Homo sapiens: one gene and its partners. The protein of the gene in region 1 purifies or fractionates together with the protein of each later gene. This does not show direct contact. Each region holds a gene or a part of one and is shown on either strand. Other genes may lie near its edges.

The links. The genes of interacting proteins can lie anywhere in the genome.
Region 2: the proteins of BPHL (region 1) and MTHFD1L fractionate together in Homo sapiens (co-fractionation; one large-scale study listed by BioGRID). This does not show direct contact.
Region 3: the proteins of BPHL (region 1) and CARS2 fractionate together in Homo sapiens (co-fractionation; one large-scale study listed by BioGRID). This does not show direct contact.
Region 4: the proteins of BPHL (region 1) and PLA2G4D purify together in Homo sapiens (affinity purification with mass spectrometry; one large-scale study listed by BioGRID and IntAct). This does not show direct contact.

The regions. Positions count from the first base shown.
Region 1 is NC_000006.12:3,125,211-3,128,710, forward strand, and holds part of BPHL (serine hydrolase BPHL isoform 1 precursor), read left to right. Parts: intron 1-2,031; coding exon 2,032-2,198; intron 2,199-3,500. UniProt on the Homo sapiens protein: Specific alpha-amino acid ester serine hydrolase that prefers small, hydrophobic, and aromatic side chains and does not have a stringent requirement for the leaving group other than preferring a primary alcohol.
Region 2 is NC_000006.12:150,864,425-150,868,501, reverse strand, and holds the start of MTHFD1L (monofunctional C1-tetrahydrofolate synthase, mitochondrial isoform 2 precursor), read right to left. Parts: upstream 2,801-4,077; 5' UTR 2,680-2,800; coding exon 2,453-2,679; intron 2,170-2,452; exon of another isoform or gene 2,144-2,169; coding exon of another isoform or gene 2,115-2,143; intron 2,056-2,114; exon of another isoform or gene 1,290-2,055; coding exon of another isoform or gene 1,168-1,289; exon of another isoform or gene 920-1,167; intron 1-919. UniProt on the Homo sapiens protein: May provide the missing metabolic reaction required to link the mitochondria and the cytoplasm in the mammalian model of one-carbon folate metabolism complementing thus the enzymatic activities of MTHFD2.
Region 3 is NC_000013.11:110,640,917-110,644,016, reverse strand, and holds the end of CARS2 (probable cysteine--tRNA ligase, mitochondrial), read left to right. Parts: intron 1-36; exon of another isoform or gene 37-684; intron 685-1,495; coding exon 1,496-1,702; intron 1,703-2,408; coding exon 2,409-2,480; 3' UTR 2,481-2,600; downstream 2,601-3,100. UniProt on the Homo sapiens protein: Mitochondrial cysteine-specific aminoacyl-tRNA synthetase that catalyzes the ATP-dependent ligation of cysteine to tRNA(Cys). In addition to its role as an aminoacyl-tRNA synthetase, has also cysteine persulfide synthase activity.
Region 4 is NC_000015.10:42,084,563-42,088,062, reverse strand, and holds part of PLA2G4D (cytosolic phospholipase A2 delta), read left to right. Parts: intron 1-362; coding exon 363-435; intron 436-626; coding exon 627-763; intron 764-1,718; coding exon 1,719-1,850; intron 1,851-2,531; coding exon 2,532-2,572; intron 2,573-2,924; coding exon 2,925-2,967; intron 2,968-3,500. UniProt on the Homo sapiens protein: Calcium-dependent phospholipase A2 that selectively hydrolyzes glycerophospholipids in the sn-2 position. Has a preference for linoleic acid at the sn-2 position.

The DNA.
Region 1 (3,500 bases):
AATTTTGTATTTTTAGTAGAGACGAGATTTCACCATGTTGTCCAGGCTGGTCTCAAACTGCTGACCTCAGGTGATCTACTCGCCCCGGCCTCCCAAAATGCTGGGATTACAGGCATGAGCCACAGCACCTGTCCCCAATTTAATTTTTTTTTATGTAAAGTATTAGCATGATTCCAATATTAAAAAAAATGGACCAGAGGAGATTCTCTCTCCTGTCCTATCCTCAGCACCCAGTTCCCCTCCCCACAGGCCTCTCAGATGTTACATGCTGATAACTATGTACATGTATTCCTTAAATGTTTTTTTAAGTTTTATATTCTTGGCACTGGTCTTCAAATGTGTACATGTGTGCCAGGGAGCAAATGCCTTCTTGTTTCTGAAATTGGTCTTTTAGACTGTTCTTTTTTCCCATCTTCTCACCTCCTGCCCCTCCTTCAGGGTACTTCCGTGGCCAGAACCCCTCCAGGTCAGAGGCAGAAGAGAAGCCTCATGGGTCACAGCAGCAGATGTGGGCTGGAGATCTATTCATTTGGTTTTGGCTTGAATTTTCTGAATGGTTTACTTGATCTTGGGAAAGATATATCTTGCCAGGAAAAATGATAGGCCTTGACAATGTTGAATGATCCTGCACCACCTTGAAAGACATTTTCTAATATGGTTTGTCAGGCAAAGTGGTTAGTAGTCATTTGTGGCCTGAGGTAGAAGTCCTCAGAAATCAGCAGACTTCACTGATAAAATGCTGACTTGCCCCTGGACTGGGCTCTGTGAGAGTGGCCTTCTGCACTGTGCACAGTAGGTGTGAACACACCACACCTACAGGGACCACGTGGTGGGCTGTGGACTAGCGGCCAAGCTCCCTGCAGGCCCACTAATAGAATTCAGCTTTTAGCATGGGCTGTTTCATACTGTTCTGATGAAACTGATTTGGTTTCTTTCCTCCATACCCCTTCTGCATTTCAGTGTTTTTGTTTAGTTTTCCTGGTTTTTAATTATAACTACAAAATAAAATCTTTAGGCTATTCACCTTAGCTTAGTAAAAAAAAAAAAAATTAAAAATCTGGAATTTTAGAATTCTACTTTGAATAACTTGGACCAAATCTCATAAATTTCTTTGCAGATATTATAGAGATCCCTCTCATGTGTAAGTCATTGTTTTAAGAAGAATAGATAACCCAGAAGCATATCTGTGAATTAATTTGTATACAGTTTCATTAATTCTTTCCTTTAGAAAAGGAAGATTAAGCCAAAGAGGTTTCAAAAGTGCTGAAATAATACAGAAGCAAAGGAAGACCCAGGGCCTCTGTCTTTCTCAAAATAGCCACCAGGGGGAGGTCGGAGGCAGGCCTGCACTCCGCCGGGAAAGGAAGCGCGCCTCCTTTTTTTTTTTTTTTGGTGGAGGGACAGAGTCGCACTTTGTCACCAGGGTAGAGTGCAGTGGCGCAATCTCCGTTCACTGCAACCTCTGCTTCCCTGGTTCAAGCGATCCGCCCGCCTTGGCCTCCCAAAGTGCTGGGATTACAGGCGTGAGCCACCGCGCCCGGCCCCTTTTTTTTTTTTTTTTGGAGACTGAGTCTTGCCCTGTGCTCAGGCTGGAGTGCAATGGCGCGATCTGGGCTCACTGCAACCTCCGCCTCCCGGGTTCAAGCAATTCTCCTGCCTCAGCCTCCTGAGTAGCTGGGACTACAGGCGCACACCGCCATGCCCGGCTACATTTTTTTTTTTTTTTTTTTTTTGTATTTTAGTAGAGATGGGGTTTCACCGTGTTGCCCAGGCCGGTCTCGAACTCCTGAGCTCAGGCAGTCCGCCCGCCTCGGCCTCCCAAAGTGCTAGGATTACAGGCGCACCCGGTCAGCCTGCCTCCTTTCTTCGAGTGGATGGATTAAGTCATTGCAAGGCTGCTTTCCTGATTACATTCTGACCACTTTGAGTAGAAACTACTTTGCTTTTAAGATTGTTATTGCTTCTGTTTTCACTGTAATGTGTTTGATAGTGAAAGCGATCACCTGAGGGTAACCAAGTGGCTGTTTTTAGGAAGTGGAGAGACTGATTTTGGACCTCAGCTCAAGAACCTCAATAAGAAGCTCTTCACGGTGGTCGCCTGGGATCCTCGAGGCTATGGACATTCCAGGCCCCCAGATCGCGATTTCCCAGCAGACTTTTTTGAAAGGGATGCAAAAGATGCTGTTGATTTGATGAAGGTAGGTCTCTGAGGGAAGGGCCAGGGGAGGAAGGGTGGCTGGGCCTGTCTTCATTTATTTTGTTTAAATTTTGTTGTTATATTTTTCTACAAAATAATACCATGTGATTGCTATAGAAAACCCCAAGAGTTCAAATAGGTATAAAGAAGAAAGTAGAAATAGCCCACAGTCCAGCTCTCTAGAGACACTACCAAATCTTGGCGGCTCTGCTTTCTGGCCAGTCTTATTACATCACAAACGCAGTTTCATATTGATGGCATCGTGCTACACCTAACGTTTTTCTAACTTACTATTTTTGTTGAACAATTTTTCAAGGAAATAACTTTCATGTCAATAAATATGCATTTATACTAGTTGTATGATAGGCACATATTATTCCATTGTATGGATGTACTGTATCTTATTTCACCAATTTTCTTTTTTTTTTTTTGAGACAGAGTGTTGCTCTGTCACCCAGGCTGGAGTGCGGTGGCGCAATCTTGGCTCACTGCAACCTCTGCCTCCCGGGTTCAAACGATTCTCCTGCCTCAGCCTCCTGAGTAGCTGGGATTACAGGCACATGCCACTATGCCCAGCTAATTTTTGTATTTTTAGTAGAGACAGGGTTTCATCGCATTAGTCCGGATGGTCTCGATCTCCTGACCTCATGATCCACCCACCTTGGCCTCCCAAAGTGCTGGGATTACAGGCATGAGCCACCACACCTGGCCTATTTCACCAGTTTTCTAATAGTAGATAATTAACTTAATTTTTAAGTTGCCTTTTTCTGCTGTTATAAATAGCAGGCAGTGAACATTCTGTTGCTCGTGGGCATTTTCATTTTTTTGCCACTATAAACAGTATTGTTGTGGACATCCTGGACTGAGCTCCTGGCACACAGGGAGAATTTCATACACATTTAGGAGACAATTTGCTAGGTGATGGAAGTTCCAGATGTTCATTTTGCAGGATAGTGCCACAGTAGTTACACCATTTTATGGTCCGGGCAGCAAATATCTTGGAGTAATATTAATTCTTTACCTTTAATTTTCCAGTCATTCCATTCTTTTTTCTTGGCGGCCTCTCTAAGATGTAATCTTTGTCCATTTTCCCTGCCAAACGCATGTCCAGACCCTCTCTGATTCACCCGCGGACTCACACAACCTCCCCATGACGCTGTTCTCTGACAGCCTGGCTCTTGCCAGTTCTTCCCACAGTTGCTTTACCAGATACCCTGCTTCACTCCATCCAGCAGAGCTCAGGGTCCCCTCTCTGATCTACAGAACTGTTCTCAAGGTCCTTGCTCAGGCATGCATATGCACA
Region 2 (4,077 bases), about 150 Mb from region 1:
CAGGCGTGGTAGTGCGAGCCTGTAATCCCAGCTACTCAGGAGGCTGAGGCAGGGGAATCGCTTGAACCCGGGAGGCGGAGGTTGCAGTGAGCCGAGATCCCGCCACTGCACTCCAACCTGTGCGACAGAGTGAGATTCCGTCTCAAAAAAAAAAAAAAAAAATTAATAGCCACCATTTGTTGAGGGACTTGTCTTGTATGTGACAGTCCTGGGCTATGTATTTTGCATGTGTCCTCTCACATAATTGTTTCCATAACCCCTTGAGGTAAGTACTGTTACTCCTCCCATTTTCCTGAAGGAATTGAGTTTGGAGAACCCAGTGCAGGCCCTAAAGCCCCCTACTAACCTCTTTACTCATCTCTAAGGCAGTCATGGCTTTAAACCTAAAAGTATGCATGAATAGCCCAGGCGCGGTGGGTCACGCCTGTAATCCCAACACTTTGGGAGGCCAAGGCAGTCGGATCACCTGAGGTCAGGAGTTCAAGACCAGCCTGGCCAACATGGTGAGACATCCTGTCTTTACTCAAAATACAAAAATTAGCCGGGCGTGGTGGCGTGCTCCTGTAATCCCAGCTACTCGGGAGGCTGAGGCAGGGGAATCGCCTGAACCTGGGAGGCAGAGGTTGCAGGGAGCCAAGATCGTGCCATTGCACTCCAGCCTGAGTGACAGAGCAAGACTCCGTCTCAAAAAAAAAAAAAAAAAAAAAGAATATGTATGAATAAAACCCACAGATGACCCCAAATCTTGAAGCATTCCTTCTGTAACCATTTCACAAGTGCTTATTACATGCTGGGCACTCTCTCCAGGACCTAGGATATAGCACCGAAGAGACGGCTGTCTCATGAAGCTCATATTCCAGGTGGGTGAGACAGACAAGAAATGAGCAAAGAAGGAAGTTTCAGGTAATAATCAGTTTACCTAGAAAATAAAACAGCATGACGGGAGAAGTTTTTTTGCCGCCTATCCTGGCTTCAGACTCTAACCGGTAAGATGAGTCTCAGCAACGTGCAGGTTAAAACCTAATGACCTGACGTGTAATTAATCCCAGCGCTTTTGGGGGCAGGGATGATGGCTTGCGCCCAGGAGTTCCAGACCAGCCTGGTAACAGAGTGGTGCTCTGTCTCTATGAAAATAAAATAAAATAATCCGGGCATGGTAGCGCACACCTGTGGTCCCAGTTACACTGGAGGCTAAGGCGGGAGAATCGCTTGAGCCCAGGAGGCGGAGGCTGCATTGAGCCGAGATGGCACCACTGAACTCCAGCCTGAGCAACAAAGCGAGACTCCATTTCTAAAAGAAAAAGAAGACAGAGAACAAGAAAAACTAAATAAATGGCCCCTTAAAATCATCCGCCACATAATAAAGAGCCTAGGAAACGTATTTTACTGAGATGGGAGAAGGGGAGTGGGGAGGAAAATGGGAGAGCAGAGGGAGGAAGGAAAGGCAGAGAGAAAGGCAAGCAGGCAATGACTAAGAAAGAAGGCTAGAAGGAAAGGGAAGAGGATGTGAATGGAGGAGGTGGTCCGCTGGCCGGGGAAACCGCATCCTGGAACTCGTTCCTAATCCCAGTTCCGAGGGAGGCGGAAGGGGCTTTCTTGCCACCCCCAAGTTGTCCCGAAGGGCTCGCCCTGCAAGGCCCGAGACCCGTGCGCCCCTCTGGGCGAGGGCGGGGAAGGCTGGAGCCCAGGGGCGGGGACCGGGACGGGAAAGGCCGGGCCCGGGGCTCCCAGTTCGCTCTGGGCCCGCAGAAAACCCTGCAAACCCAGCTGCGCGGGGACTCCGTGGGCGCTGCGCGGCGAAGCTGGAAACCAGCGCTGAGACCTCTCGGATTCCCCCCGGCGGCTGTCCCGGGGGCCCGGCTCCACCTTTGCCGTTCCGGGAAAAGCGGACGTCAGCCACAGACCCCAGCCCAGCAGGAGGGGCCGCGCGCGGGGAAGGGCGCACAACACCAGGGAGCTTCGCGCGGGCGGCGCTGGGCCCGAGCCCGCCTCTCCCGAGCTCCGCTTGCCCTTCCCGAACCCCGGGCCAGCCGGCGCGCCGAGCCGCAGCCCCGCCCTCCTCCTGCTCCTCGCCCCCTCCCCTGGTTTCCGCCCCAGCCGCACCGCCCCTTTACCGTCTGGGTCGCGCCCGGCGCGATTGCATCAGAGCCGGCGGCCGGCTGCGCACGTGGAGCCGGGCGTGCGGTCCATGCCGCTAGGCGCCCATTGGAGATGCCCACGCCCACCTGCGCTGCGGGCCCGGTCGGGTACTGGATCCCCCGTTCTCCGCCAGCGCTCCCGGCCGCAGTGCCCAAGCCCGCGTTTCCCGACACACCGCCCGGCCCCCCTAATGAGTTGGCACCAAACACTCGCAGCCCCGCGCCCCGCTCCCCACGGCGGTCCCGGGCGCTCCGCCCCTGGGTCGGGGCCACAGCCGCTGGAGACCTGGGCCAGGGCCAGACCCGACACTCACCTGACGATGGAGTCCCGCGCCGCGGGCGTTCGGCCGCCGGGGCTGCAGCTGCTCCGGGCCTGGCCATCCTGCGGCCGCCGCTGTCCAAGCAGGCCCTCCCGGCCACCGCCGCCGCCTCCGCCGCCGCCGCTGCTAGCGCGACAGGGCACACGGAGGCGGCGCGGAGGGCCCGGGGGCTGGGGCGGGCGGCGGAGCTGGCGCAGGACGAGCGGCAGACGCGTGCCCATGGCGCGGGACGGCTGGTTCTCAGGGGACACGGAGCTGCGGCTGCCGAGGGCGGCGGGGCGCGTGCCAGGGGAGCAGGCGGCGGCGGCGGCGGCGGCGGCGGGAAGGACCTGGCGCTTCCTCCTCGTCCCAGGGGCCCCTAGGGGGCACTGCACCCGGCGGCCGTGACGTGCGGAGGGCGGGGGCCTGCGAGCCGCCGGCCGGGATGTCACGGCTTTGGGCACTTTGGTTTGGTAAGCTGTACCAGACAGAGGGTGGGGTGCGGAGTGGGACTCAGACTCTGCCCTGAGACTCAGCCTCCCTCCCTTCAGCCTGAAAGGCCGAGGTGACCCTTGGTACTCAGGGCGCCAAGTTTAGACGGGAGGGCTTGGATTTGCTGTACTGGAGGTGGCCTGAGGATAAGAGGCTTTGTAACCTTAGGCAGGGGCACTTAATCTCGGTGAGCTTGCGGGGTCTTCGTCAGTACCACAGAGATAACAATGCTCTTCTTAAAACCTTAAAAGGATTTTATAGTCCTGATTGGTTCCAGGGCCCCTCCAGGGGACCCACGTCCACAAATGCTCAAGTCCTTGGTAAAAAAAAAAAAAAAAAAAAGTGTTTGCATATCACCTACACACATCTTCCCATCATAAACTTTAGGTCATCTCCACATTCCCTAAGTCCTCACCTAACATCGTGGAGGGGTTCTTGGAAACTGAAACTTTAAGCCAAATGACTGTAAGGAAAACAGTTTGACCACAGGCTAATTGATATGAGTGAAGTTCCTACAACATATCTGTGGTCACAAAATCGCCCCTAAACTTCGAAATAAAGACCAAAACACTTCTAATATTAAACATTGAAATAAGTGTGAGCCATGCATATATTTAAGGAAGATTTTTAGCTCACGCCTATAATCCCAACACTTTGGGAGGCTGAGGTGGGCAGATCACGTGAGGCCAGAAGTTCAAGACCAGCTTGGCCAACATGGCGAAACCCCATCTCTACTAAAAATACAGAAAATTGGCTGGGTGTGGTGGCGCGTGCCTGTATTCTCAGCTACTCGGGAGGCTGAGGCAGGAGAATCGCTTGAACCCAGGAGCCAGAGGTTGCAGTGAGCCGAGATCATGTCACTGTACTCTAGCCTGGGCGACAGAGCACAGCTCTGTCTCAAAGAAAAAGTTTTTTTTAAACACCCCCTATCCCTCTCGCTTAGAGAAAAATAAAGATTAATAAAAGTGAGATCATTTTTACCGGCTTATTCCAACTCAGGGCACCTCACAGGGTGTGCTCACACACACCCACACTCACACTCGGATCGTGTAGATGCACCAATTTACCTAAAGTGCACTGCACGGCTTTGGGATGTGACAGGACACCAGAAGACAGAGAAAATCCACACAGACATGGATAAAACGTGA
Region 3 (3,100 bases), on another chromosome or scaffold:
GAGCCCCCTTGCCTGGCACATGTTTTGTACGGACAGGACGGGCTCCCCGACAGGCACGAGTCACCTGCACCTTCCCAGCGAGGCTCACCCTGGCTGTGCAGTGAAGGTGGACGCTGCCAGGCTTCTCCACATTCCTTCTCTTCCGTTGTAACTCAAGAGCATTTTTGCAAAGAGACTTGGATCCTATGAAAATGTCCTCTTCCTTATCAGGCTCACCTGAAACTCGTTTATTCTATCAATACAGATTTGAGGTTTCCTGCCTTATTCTTAAAGTCCCCACCATCACTTTGTATGTGGCTGACAGAGGCCCCTTGGGGCTGGCGCTGTGTCCCTGAACATCCCTGTCATTCTTTGGACACCCTTGTAGAATTCTCAGCACAAGGCGCTCTGGCTCTTTTGGGGTGTGGCTCGGCTGCTGCTGCCTGGACGGGGGCTGCCACTCTAGACCAGCTGCCCAGCACCCCGAGGGTCCCGCCGCTTGGGACTGGGGCCCAAGCAGGTGTGCTGAAGGCCTGGCTCTGGGCCAAACATGTCTCGCTGGCTCTCAACAGAGAACTATAGTGTCTTTTCCAAGTTTGGCTCATTTGTATACCTGTTGATCACCTGGTAGACTTAGTTCCCCTTTCCAGCAGTCCGGCGTCTGTTGCCAATCACATAAAAGTCGACTGGTGTGAGATGACCCAAGTTTTTGCAATGTACATGTTCATTTTTAGGGGTGGCTTTCCGGAGTCTGTTTTGAGTAAGAAAAGTGGGATCTGGCCAAGCTCTGCCTAGCCCTTGTCAAAGATATCTCATTCACCTTCCTCTGGCCGCAAGGCCCAATGTCTGGGCCCACTCTGGGCTCATATTTCTGTAATAACAAAAACTGTCTTTTATCATGGAAGCAATAACTGAGGGGTGTGTGAGGTTTAAGTAGTTTGACACCAAGGTCAAATGTTGTGTCTGTTTCTTATTTTACACACATGGATTTAACAAATAGGTACAGCTGCCCCTTCCACACCGCCCCAGGATCTGTTCTCAGTGGGAGGACAGCGCGAGGCCTTCTGCGCAAATCCCGTCCTCAGCACCTGAGGCTGTGAATCTCAGACCATTTGCCGAAACACACGTGTGCAAGCGCTCAGTCGCTGCCCCCCAGCCTCATCCTCAGGTTGCTCCTGATACCTCGGCCACAATTGCGTGAGGTCTGGAAGCCAGGGAGCGTTTGTGTTCAGGGCGGGGCGGCATGCAGCCCCCAGCCCTTTCTTCCAACTCCCGAGTGAGGATCACTCAGCCTTGCTTGGACGACAGATGCTCAGAGTTGAGTGGAGCCTTGCCCAGAGCCCAGCGCTCGCGGGCTGTACCCATCCCTGCCAGACCCAGAAAGAGGCCCAGCTGCAGGGAATCAGGGAAGCCCAGGGCTGGGTGGGTGTCGGCCCAGAGCCCAACCACGGGGTGGGGAGGGGGCATCCACAATCCACAGTCTCCGGGGGACGTAACCGCGCCCTGCTGGCTTCAGTACGTTTCAGGAGACGGCAGCGAGGCTACCTTGCATGGTGTGGTGGACGAGCTGGTGCGGTTCCGGCAGAAGGTCCGGCAGTTTGCGCTGGCCATGCCCGAGGCCACGGGGGACGCCCGGCGGCAGCAGCTCCTAGAAAGGCAGCCCCTGCTGGAAGCATGCGACACCCTGCGCCGGGGCCTGACTGCCCACGGCATCAACATCAAGGTGAGTGCCGCACCAAGGTCAGGGACATCACCCCAGGAGCCGGGTAGGTCAACAGGACGTGGGGCCATCAGAGGCCCAGACATCCCCCGTGACCATGCTTTTTTTTTGAGACGGAGTTTCACTCTTGTCACCCAGGCTGGAGTGCAATGGCGTGATCTCGGCTCACCACAACCTCTGCCTCTGCCTCCCAGGTTCAAGCGATTCTCCTGCCTCAGCCTCCTGAGTAGCTAGGATTACAGGCATGCACTCCCATGCTCGGCTGATTTTTTATTTTTAGTAGAGACAGGTTTTCTCCACGTGGGTCAGGCTGGTCTCAAACTCCCGACCTCAGGTGATCCTCCCACCTCAGCCTCCCAAAGTGCCAGGATTACAGGCGTGAGCCACTGCGCCCTGCCCATGCTTCTGAGTAGAGAAACCCACCCCCATAAAAAATGAGGTGGGAGGGCCGTGAGGGAGGGGCCAAGTTGGCTGCAGGGGACGCTGAGCACGGGGACGTGGGTCCTGCTCAGCCCCCGCCACCTCCTGCAGGTGCCTTGAAGCTCCTGGCCTTCTGCTGGAGGTAGTGGGGCCCTTTCTAAGCGCCTGGCAAGCTTTTTAGGACAGGCCGGTGAGGGAACAGGCACCCTGAACCTGATTACGCCTGTCAGCCCCCTGTGCCACATGACGTGGTGTCTGCTCAGAGTTGGACCTCACTCTTCTTCTCCAGGACAGAAGCAGTACAACATCCACGTGGGAACTGCTGGATCAAAGGACAAAAGACCAAAAATCAGCGGGCTGAGGATGGAGCACAGCCATGAACCTGCTCACGACAAGACGCACCCATGCTTCTCAGGGTCAAGGCTTTATGTTAAAGCTTCCTGTCGGGGCTGCTAGGTCAGCATTAAAGTAAGGCAACCAACAGTGTCCCACTGGCGTCTGTTTGTTAGTAACTGAGCCTAAACACTCACTGCGTTCTGTGGCTACAGACTCACCGTCGATTGAGTGAAGTAGTGTCAGACATTCAGTAGCATCCAGCAGCACACGTGCCTGTGCGTGAGACCTGCTGGCCCTGTGCCCAGGGAACAGACAACACAGCCAACAGAAGAGCAGGGACCCCGGGAGGCGGCAGAATGCAGCCTGTTTCCTCCTGAGGGAGGGGCTGGGGATGGGTGAGGTGGGTGGGCCACGCAGCATAGTCTGAAGCAGAGGTGGGACGCCAGCAATGCTAACCCCGGGACACCTCCCCCAGCAAGAACACAATCTTACGTTTTCTCTCTGGTTACAAAAGTAACGTATTCAGCATAGGAAAAATGCAGCTGAGAACCCGTCTGCAGTCCCGCTGCAGTTAACATCCTGGCAGCTGCAGGCCATCTTGGTGGTCATGGTCTGTGCAGAGCAGTGATGGGGTCGAGCTGGGCC
Region 4 (3,500 bases), on another chromosome or scaffold:
CCCTGGGAGCTCTGGGAATGGCTGACATCTAACTGACCTCTGTGGTTGCCACTCCTTGGCCCTCACTTCCTTGCTCTGTCCACTACCCATGTTGCTCTGTTCCCGAAGGGGAAGGGGTTCCACAAATTCCACATCTGGGTGTGCTGCTATTCCCTGACTGCTGCAGCCCAGAACCATGACCCCCAAAACAGAAGTGGACAAAGGCTCTTTGGTCCCCAGAGGGTGTCCCCGGAACGCCTGGCAGGGGTGTCAGCACCACCAAGTACCAGGAGAGTGGTGAGGGGTGTCGGCAGCCCGGGCTGCAGCTCCAGGCATAAGGGAGGGAATGCAGGAAGGACTCTGGAGTTTGATTTTCTCTTCAGGGGGAGGCCTCTACCTGCTGGCAGCTCACAGTGAGGGTCCTGGAGGCGCGGAACCTGCGCTGGGCTGACCTGTGTGAGTAACCGCCCTGTGCGCTCTGTCGGGAGCAGGGAGGACCAGATCCCATAGGAAGGGCCAAGACGAGTGCCCTGGGGCTGGGCTGGGTCACCTGCGGTGACCGCCAGGGTCTTGGTAGGAAACTGGCATGGCTCATGGAGAGGGGTGTGGGGAGTACTCCCTCACGAAGACTTCCTTAACCTTGGCAGTGAGTGAGGCCGACCCTTACGTGATCCTACAGCTGTCGACCGCACCTGGAATGAAGTTTAAGACCAAGACGCTCACCGACACCAGTCATCCTGTGTGGAATGAGGCCTTCCGTTTCCTTATCCAAAGTCAGGTCAAGGTGAAGGCCCGGGACTCCTGGCCACTCCCTTGTGAACGGGCTGGACCCCCATGCAAGGGTTCCTGGGGTAGAGCATGCTTCCTCTGGGGCTGTCAGAGAAACTCTCAGCAGTAGGGGGTCTCTGTGCCCTGGCCTGTCTGTGCTGTGTGCAAGGGAATGTATGAAAGAATGAACATGGTCCTTTCACCAACTGGCTGTGGGACTGACTCCCACAAGCTGGGTTCCTCTCGAAGCCCAGCTATGAAACAGAGACAGTAAGAGCCCCCTCCTGATCAGGTCACTGTGGGGTGAGATGAGATAATGCGTGGAAGACCGTGAAAGATCACCAGCACATACCTTAGGGTGCACCTCAGGGAGCCAGAAAAGCCAGGGAGAGAGAGACACACAGACAGGGAGAGAGGAAGAGGGAATTATTTGACAGACTTTTATGTGTTTTGTTTTGTTTTTGAGACAGAGTCTTGCTCTTATTGCCCAGGTTGGAGTTGAATGGCGCGAACTGGGCTCACTGCAACCTCCGCCTCCCAGGTTCAAGCGATTCGCCTGCCTCAGCCTCCCGAGTAGCTGGGATTACAGGCACCCACCACCATGTCCAGATAATTTGTTGTATTTTTAGTAGAGATGGGGTTTCACCATGTTGGCCAGGCTGGTCTCGAACTCTCGACATCAGGTGACCCACCCACCTCAGCCTCCCAAAGTGCTGGATAACAGGCATGAGCCACCATGCCCAGCTCAGAATTTTATGTTTGATAAAAACAAAAATTAGAAGGAGGAAATTTGAAATTTAATAAGATTTCCTTATATTTAAGTTTTACAGTTTTTTTTTTTATTTTGAAGCGCAGACGTGTGGTGGCATAATGATCTTCTCTGACTCTAGACATCAAGTAAGGGCTCAACAGAGGTGAGCTACTCTCACTATGAGCAGGTAAAATGCTAAGTCGCTGTTCCTGGTTCCTAGAATGTTCTGGAGCTTAGCATCTATGATGAGGACTCAGTCACGGAGGATGACATCTGCTTCAAGGTTCTCTATGACATCTCAGAAGTCCTCCCTGGCAAGCTGCTCCGGAAAACCTTCTCCCAGAGTCCCCAGGTGGGTGGGTGGGTGGGGAAGTCCCCGTGGGCCCCACTTCTTCCAACTCCAAGCTGAGGAAGTAGCTATTTCTCCCACCTGTTGGGAGGCTGCTGGGGTGAACTCATTCACAGAAAAATCTAAACCCCTTTTTAGATTTGCATTTTAATAAGCAAGGAAAAGGCTTCACTTTACAGTTACAGGCTGAATCACCCAGTGGAGGAATTTTAGCCACCTGTGGCAGGAAGGCCACCCCTCAAAACACAGCTCAGCATCCATCACTCCTGCTGGTGGTGCCAAGGCCTGCTTTGTGAAGGCCTCACGTCCCTTCCTGCTGCAGCCTGGGGGTGGGGACGGCAGAGTTCGGGGGTCTGGGCCCTCCTCAAGAAAAAGATATGGGTCCTGCACATCATGCCTCCTTTGGCTGTGCTCCTTGTCTTCCCCTTCAGTCTTGCCCAGAGTTGTGGGACCTCCAAGGGAGGGAGACCTGTTCTCTGCAGACTTACTAGCTGTGGGCAATGTGGGCAGGTAGCCCATCTGGCCCCATACCTCAGTTTCCTCATCCATAAATTGGAAATAATTGTACTAACGTGCCTCCCTTGGAGACCGCTTGAGAGGATGAGATGACACCTGTAAAAGAACTGTGTCAACTCTGAAGACACAGGTATGTGCTGATGACTTGCTCATGCTCTCTGATTTCAGGGAGAGGAGGAGCTGGATGTGGAGTTCCTGATGGAAGAAACGTGAGTAATGTCACACAGCCCAGGGAGTGTCTCAGGACTCAGGCTCTGAGGAAATGGCCCTGACCCAGATCTCCCTGTGGTCAGTCCAGCCTGACTGTCCCTCATCTCCTACCCCTGCCAGAGAGGTCGGGAGTGGGGCGGGGCTTCTCTTAGGGAAACACAGAGAGGAAGGCCGATGTTTTCTCTCTCTGCTCTCTCCCCTCCCCTCTCCTCCTGCAAAGCATCTCCCCTTGTCCCTGAACCGAATCCAGGACTTACAGAGCCCTCAGCATCACCCAGGGAGACCCCACATGGGCGGGAGCGGGAGGTCAATGCAGGAAGCGTTTGCCTTTGCATGGTTTGATTTTTCCAGGTCAGATCGCCCAGAAAACCTCATCACCAACAAAGTCATTGTGGTAAGCACCTTCCCCAGGCTTAGGGGAGGGGCCCCAGAGCAGACGCTTGGGGAGGGAGGGCAGCTGCCTGGGGTGTGGACCAGCAGGGACAAGGAAGGGGCAGGGCTTCGTGGTAAAACCACCCCTAGCCTTCCAGCCAGGTGGTCACCTGTGGCTGTGGGTCTTGGAGGGGCCTGGAGCTAAGGGGCGCATAGAGAGAGGGGAGGCAGGGCTCTGCTGAGAGGAGGTTCTGGCCCACGGCTGTTCGGGGTGCTTCCGGAAGGTGTTTAGTCACCTGCGGTGAACTCATAGTTCTAGGGATTGACTGAGTGCTTCCCTGGGAAGCGGTGAAGAAATCAGGTAGGCCAGGCCCACCTTCCGGTTGTTCACGTTGAGGTCACCGAGGCTCAGAGGGAGTTCCCAGGGCGGTGTACTGCCAACCTAGGAGGATCAGAGGCTCAGGCAGCTAGCTCCTCCTTGGGACTGGGGAGAGTCCTGGTCAGCGCTCCTGACCACGGGCTCACGAAGCTGCAGTGGACAGAAATGGCCGCAAG